Regions from separate parts of the Homo sapiens genome. Here region 1 is reported to be linked to region 2. The links are microRNA targets in miRTarBase. Many come from high-throughput screens and were not tested one by one. Region 2 holds a microRNA gene; the other region holds the end of a gene's coding sequence.
What was found. The annotated mature microRNA hsa-miR-4655-3p reads ACCCUCGUCAGGUCCCCGGGG and lies in region 2 at 1,507-1,527, shown strand. An mRNA with a match to its seed (bases 2 to 7 or 8) in the 3' UTR can be bound and repressed. Matches are read on the target gene's strand: a 7mer-m8 pairs with bases 2 to 8, a 7mer-A1 pairs with bases 2 to 7 and ends in A, and an 8mer does both.

Region 1: miRTarBase lists DOHH as a target of hsa-miR-4655-3p. Seed matches in the 3' UTR shown: 7mer-A1 at 2,620-2,626, 7mer-A1 at 2,597-2,603, 7mer-A1 at 2,574-2,580, 7mer-A1 at 2,551-2,557, 7mer-A1 at 2,528-2,534 and 7mer-A1 at 2,482-2,488.

Annotation. Positions count from the first base shown.
Region 1 is chr19:3,488,568-3,491,953 of GRCh38, forward strand. DOHH (deoxyhypusine hydroxylase) reads right to left here. Exons shown (of 5, transcript NM_001145165.2): 5 at 2,257-3,244. The coding sequence ends at 2,925. It overlaps LOC105372246 (a long non-coding RNA gene), which reads left to right. Exons shown (of 5, transcript XR_936264.2): 3 at 1,525-1,843; 4 at 1,955-2,049; 5 at 2,708-2,794. Among named protein-coding and RNA genes, the nearest start is that of SMIM44, 6.8 kb to the left of the region's middle.
Region 2 is chr7:1,842,330-1,845,715 of GRCh38, reverse strand. It overlaps MIR4655 (microRNA 4655), which reads left to right and starts at 1,463; the gene lies at 1,463-1,536. The region is part of intron 18 of MAD1L1 (mitotic arrest deficient 1 like 1); the gene reads left to right. All of the region lies in intron 1 of LOC100127955 (a long non-coding RNA gene), which reads right to left.

The DNA of each region.
Region 1 (3,386 bases), not on the chromosome of region 2:
GCAGCGAGCTTAGATCGAGCCACTGCTCTCCAGCCTGGGCAATAGAGCAACACTCTGTCTCTAAAACATAAACAAGATGGCCAGGCACGTGGCTCATATCTATAATCCCAGCACTTTGGGAGGCTGAGGAGGGCAGATCATTTGAGGCCAGGAGTTCAAGACCAGCCAGGCCAACATGGTGAAACCCTGTCTCTACTAAAAATACAAAAATCAGCCAGGCATAGAGGCATGTGCCTGTAGTCCCAGCTACTCAGCAGGCTGAGGCACAAGAATTGCTTAAACCTGGGAGGCAGAGGTTGCAATGAGCTGAGATTGCACCACCGCACTCCAGCCTGGGCAACAGAGTGAGACCCTGTCTCAACACAGAACAAAACATACTGAGACCCCGTCTCTACAAAAAAATACAAATATTACTCAGGCACAGTGGGGCAAACCTGAGGTCCCAACTGCTTGGGAGGCCAAGATAGGAGGATCGCTTGAGCCCAGGAGGTTGAGGCTGCAGTAAGCTGCAGTGATCAGCCACTGCACTACAGCCTGGGAGACAGAGGGAGACCCTCTCCATTTAAAAAAAAAAAAAGTGAGCCAAGCGCAGTGGCTCACGTCTGTAATCTCAGCACTTTGGGAGGCCAAGGCGGGCTGATCACAAGGTCAAGAGTTCAAGACCAGCCTGGCCAACATGGTGAAACCCCATCTCTACTAAGAATACAAAAATTAGCTGGGCGTGCATGGTGGCACGTGCCTGTAATCCCAGCTACTTGGGAGGCTGAGGCAAGAGAATCACTTGAACCCGGGAGGCAGAGGTTGCAGTGAGCTGAGATCACGCCAATGCACTCCAGCCTGGGTGACAGAGCAAGACTCCATCTCGGGGGGAGGCAAAAAAAAGGCTGGGTGTGGTGGCTCATGCCTGTAATCTCAGCACTTTGGGAAGCCGAGGCGGGTGGATCACCTGAGGTCAGGAATTTGAGACCAGCCTGACCAACATGGTGAAAGCCTGTCTCTACTAAAAAATACAAACAGGCCAGGTACGGTGGCTCACACCTGTAAGCCCAGCACTTTGGGAGGCCGAGGCAGGAGATCGAGACCATCCACCATCCTGGCTAACACAGTGAAACCCCGTTTCTACTAAAAATACAAAAAATTAGCCGGGCGTGGCAGCGTGCGCCTGTAGTCCCAGCTACTCGGGAGGCTGAGGCAGGAGAATGGCGTGAACCCGGGAGGCGGAGCTTGCAGTGAGTGGAGATCGTGCCACTGCACTCCAGCCTGGGCAACAGAGCGAGACTCCATCTCGAAAAAAAAAAAAAAACAAAAAAAAAATTTAGCTGGGCATGATGGTGCATGCCTGTAATCCCAGTTACTTGTTAAGCTGAGGCAGGAGAAGTGCTTGAGCCTGGCAGGCAGAGGTTGCAGTGAGCCGAGATCACGCCATTGCACTCCAGCCTGGGTAATAAGAGTGAAATTCCATCTCAACAAAAATAATAAAATAAATTAAAATTAAAAACCTATAATCAAACATGTGACTTCCAGGCAGGTTTCTCAACCTCTGCACTCATTTGGGGCCGGATCATTCTCTGTTGTGGGGACCGAGTGCTGGAGGTTATCTTCCAGCATCCCTGGCCTCCCCCGACTACCTGACTAGATGCCAGCTGCACACCCCCACCCCCCACCCCATGACAAGCTAAACTGATGCCCCGGGGCAGGATCCAGCACTCCGGTGGAGAACATGGCTCAGTGGATAGTCGGTTCCCGTTGCGTTTTGCCTCCTGTCTTCTGGTTTTGGCCTCTCTGGCTGCAGACCAGGAGCTCTGCACCTGAGATTCTACCGCTATGCCTATTTTACAGAGAGGTAAGTGGGCTGTCCCCAGCCACACATGGAAGGGCTGCGGGAGCCGGCGGAGGAAGCCATGTCTGGGCTCTCAGCTGGACCACAGAACCCCTTCCACTGCACCCACAACAGGAGCTGGGGGAAGACGGGGGTCCGGGAAGGGCCAGGCTGGAGGGCTGTTTCCCCAGAGCCCACTTGGAGGGAGCTGGCTGGGCAGATCTGACCAGGTAACCGCACATAAAACAGGTGCAGGCCTGCCTGTCGCTGGTGGTGGCTCAGTGTCAGCAGCAGGACAGATCCTAGAGCCAATGGCTGCGGATACAACCGTCTCCCCGCCCAGACGCCACACACTCTCGGGGAACGTTCCCTGAAAGCCCCCACCCCTCCCTCCCTCCCACGCTCCCCTCACCCAACACACTCAGAGGAGTCAGTGCTTGGCAAAAATAATTTAATATTCCATCTGGGCAGCGCTCTGAGGTCTGCTTGTCCCTCCCTGGCCCCTGTGCCCTACCTGACCCACTCAGGGACCACCACCCTGTCCCTACCCAGGCCTCGGGGTGGGGGAGTCAGAGGCCCCCAGACCCTGTGTCCCATTCCTAGTGAAGCTGAAGCCACCATAACGTCAGCCTCTTCCCAGAGCCCCAGCTCTGCCCCTGGCTTCCCTCGCGATCCTCCCCTGGCTCCCCTCGCGATCCTCCCTTGGCTTCCCTCGCGATCCTCCCCTGGCTTCCCTCGCGATCCTCCCCTGGCTTCCCTCGCGATCCTCCCCTGGCTTCCCTCGCGATCCTCCCCTGGCTTCCCTCGCAATCCTCCCCTGTCCTGAGCCGGGCATCCCAGAGCCTCCCGCAGAGTCCCACCCCAAGCCTGGAAACTTCCACGCTACAGCCCTGCGCCAGGCCCCGAGGAGCAGTCAGGGGACTCAGGGAGTCACAGCACAACGGCAGCTCCTCGGTCCCAGACGGAGGAGGGGGACAGCAACCATGCGCCCAGCAAGACACAAGCGATGACACCGATTTACACACACCCGGTTTAGACGCCAAAGCTCTGCGGGGGAGGAGCGGCCCTCAAGAGTCCTCCGGGAGCTCCGGGTGAGGGTGGGGCCCTAGGAGGGGGCCCCGCGCAGCTGCTCCAGGCCGTCCGCGTACTGGAAGGCCCGCCCGGTCTCGTGCTCATACATGTCCAGAGCCACCTCGCAGCTCTCACGCACCACGCGCTCTGGGTCGTCCGCGTGAGCCTGCAGCGCGGCCAGGCAGGCGGGCCGGGCAATGGCGCCCAGGGCCTCCGCGCACTCGTGCCGCACCATGGGGTTCTCGGTGCATCGGGCCAGGGCGGCCGCCAGCTGGGGCACCGCCGCCTCGTGCTGCAGCTGTCCCAGGACGTAGCCGACCTCGTGGCGGAAGAGGGCGCTCCCACAGTGCAGACCTGCAGGGGAGAGGGACACTCGCTGGGGCCAGGAGGGGTGGGAAGGGGAGCTCTGTCTTTTCGAAGACATGGGGTCTTGCTATCTTGCCCAGGCAGGTCACAAAGTCCTGGCGATCTTCCCATCCCGGCCTCCCAAAGTGCT
Region 2 (3,386 bases):
CCATCTCCTAAACAGCGCTCTTCCCCGTGAACCAGAGCGGGACGCGTGTCTGCGTGGAGCACGTCCGTCTCCTAAACAGCGCTCTTCCCCGTGAACCAGAGCCGGACGCATGTCTGCGTGGAGCACGTCCGTCTCCTAAACAGCGCTCTTCCCCGTGAACCAGAGCCGGACGCGTGTCTGCGTGGAGCACGTCCATCTCCTAAACAGAGCTCTTCCCCATGAATCAGAGCCCGACGCGTCTCTGCGTGGAGCACGTCCATCTCCTAAACAGCGCTCTTCCCCGTGAACCAGAGTCCGACGCGTGTCTGCTTGTTTCCGAGCTGCTGTTTGTGGTTTGAGTCCCCATGCAGGGCAGCGGAGGGAGGTGGCAAGGGCTGTAACACACCAAGGTCAGAGCCGCCGGCCTCTCCCACATTGACATTCTGTGCACTGCCTGTGTGTGATCAAGTCTCCCTCCGGAGCGCTGGGCCCTGCGTCAGCCTCAGGAAAGCTACAGACAAGATAGGAATCATGCGTCTCCCCACCCTGAGCCCAGCAGGCTGTGCCAGGTGTCAAGTAGCTGGTCAGCGTATCAGCCACACAGCATTGCTAGGAGGGAAGAGGAGACCCCTTCGCTCTGCTCTCCCCGCTGCAGTCAGGGCCTGCCTCCCGCGCCCGCCAGGTGGGGCCTTGGCTGCACAGACCCTGTGCCCACTGTGAGTCCAGGAGCCTCGGGCTCAGGCCCCTCCTCCCCGCACCCCTGTCCTCCTTCTGATGGCGGGACAGTGACCCTGGCTGTGCCCACTCACTGACCAGCAGCATACTGTCTCCGTCCTGGCAGCAGCTGTGCGAGGCAGGCTTTCCTGTCCCACTCGCAGAGGAGGACACGCTCAGGTGCTGGAGTGGCTTGCACGGTACGGCCACAGCCCTGCTGACTGTACCCACGCGCCCCTCCACCCCTGCAGGAGCATCGAAGGATCGGATGCAACCAGACGGGTCCCCTCTGTCAGTGCCCGGCCTGTGCCAAGCCACAGCAGGATGTCCTGGGGGAAGCCTGGAGAAAGGAGTGCTGGGCCCTGGACTCCCCCCAGCTTTGGGGGGATGGTCACCAAGGGGAGGTGCTGGGCACGTGGCAGCCTCGGGGAGCACCTTCCTGGGCCAGCTGTAGGCCCGTCCCAAGCTGCGTCCCCTGCCTGCGCCTCTCCCTGGGCCGCCTCTGCCCCCTGCAGGGCTCCGTGTCAAGCTCCTTCAGCGGGGTGGGACCTCGAATGCCGTCCATGTCCCACACCTCGCGTGTCAGGGTCTGCAGTGGAGCACCCAACCGGCGTCTCTCCCCAGGTCTCCCCCCAGCCTGGAGGTGGCCCCTTGTGCCCCTGGGCCCCTACCTGTCCAGCAGCAGCAGCTGGGGCTCCCTGTCCACTGGGAGTGCTTCCTCAAGCATGAGGTTTTGGCAGGGGGGCCTGTGGGACCACCACACTTCTCCCCAAGGGCACACCGGGGATGGCAGAGGGTCGTGGGAAAGTGTTGACCCTCGTCAGGTCCCCGGGGAGCCCCTGGCAGGCCGTTCTGTGGCTGGATGTGAGTTAAGCGGTTCAGCCGTGTGTGAGGCTCCGTGACACCAGCCAGGACACACCTGGAGTTGTGGGGATTTTTAGTTGCCTTCTGGTGGTAGTGAAACCGTGCAGCCTTGCACAAGTGTTCCTGCATAGGCTCCACTTGCTGCCCTTCCCGGCCCCACTCACATCCTGAGTGTGTGCTCAGGCCCCTCAGAAGAAACCAAACTTCTGAGTGTCCCCTCCCCGCCCCTAGCCATGGAGTGGCCGTGGCTGAAGTGGAAGAGATTCAGAGGCTGACAGCCGAGGGGAGGTTTGAACCTCACTAAAATCATTCGGAGCTCACGCTCGTTTCAGCATTGCCCACGCTGTCTGGGTAGGAGGTGAATTCGCCTCCACGTGGCCTGCCGTGGGGCTTCTTCTTGCAGCGGGCTCTCCTGGGTGCTCCAGGAAGACGGAGCTGGGACAAAGTGTGCCCACTCCAGAAGTGAGTCTTCAGCTCAGGTCTCCTCCCGGCCTTGGTTTCTGACTCCTTCGTGTTAGGAAGGAGGCCCCCAGGAGGAAGCACGCACTTTGGCAATGAGACGTTTTAATTGCATCTTAAAATAGCATTGCAGTAAAGAACACTAAACCGTGACTAACCAATTGCACTTCAGGAGGCCCTCAGCACAGTCAGACACGGGGAAGCGCGGAAAAGCTGCCCACTTGTGGACGCCCATCAAGCCCCCTCAGGAGGGGCTGGATGACAGAGGAGGTCTACACCGCACCTGGGCCCCTTCCCCAGGTTCAGCCTTCATTGCGGCCTCCCTGGCCGTGAGGGACGTCTGCGCAGGAGCTCCCCGGGGCCAGCTTTGCCTGAATGTGGAAGATGGAGGGAAGAGTGTTACCGTTTAGTTGATTTACTGCCGAAGAACCTGTAAGGCCCAGGAAGACAGAGAAAGACGCCAGAAAGAGCATCATTCTGCAGGGTTCAAGGTGAACCTGGCTCGCTTTCAGAGGAGTAGGGCAACGAGGGCACCCAGACCCTAATTACACAGGATCCCGGCACTGTGCCATCGGGGCCTCATGTGTGGTCTTGGTGGAGAATGACCAGGGCTGCTCTCTAGCCCCCGTCCTCCAGATGGTCCCCAGAGGGACTGACACACTCAAGGAATGTGCTACTGGGAAGCCAGGATGCCATTTCAGTACCAGCAGCCCCACTGTGGGCCTCACTTGAAGGCTGTGCTGGAGCCCGGCCTCGGACTCACCCCAGCCAGCCCCTGAGCTCCAGGCAGTGTACCCTCCCCATCCGGGAACCAGCCGCAAGGCAGCCCGTGTGCTGAGCCACAGGGAGGGCCAGCTGGGCGAGGGGCTGACATGTGGGACGCAGCTGTGCAGCACTCAGAGGCCCTGCCCACCCTCCCCTCCAGGACACAGCCTGACCGTGCCCTGGGCCTCGGCTGCCTTGCAGGGGCCCAGGTGAGGAGTGGGAGGTGGAGGCCTCTGCAGCTGCAGGCAGTAGCTACTCAGTAAATGATGGGCCCAGCGATGGACGAAGGACGAAGGCCTCCCTCGGGGACCTGAAGAAGCATAGCTGTCTGTCCCTCGCCGGGGCTCAGGTGGCTGCAGTTACTCAGCTCGCCTGGGACAGGCCTGGGGGGCCAGTGAGCACGCGGCATTGTGGCAGCTCAGGCAGGCATGCGCCGGAAGGGATTCTGGCGGCCTGTGGACTGGGAGAACCTTTCCAGCTGCCAAGAGTTGCCCTTTGGATCCTAAGTGCAGGGCCAAGCCCGGCTGTGACGGCTGAGGCCGGGCTCCTGGAGGCAAGGCCACCTCAGGCCTCCAGGGCCGGAGCCGCAGGGAGCTGCTGGGTTT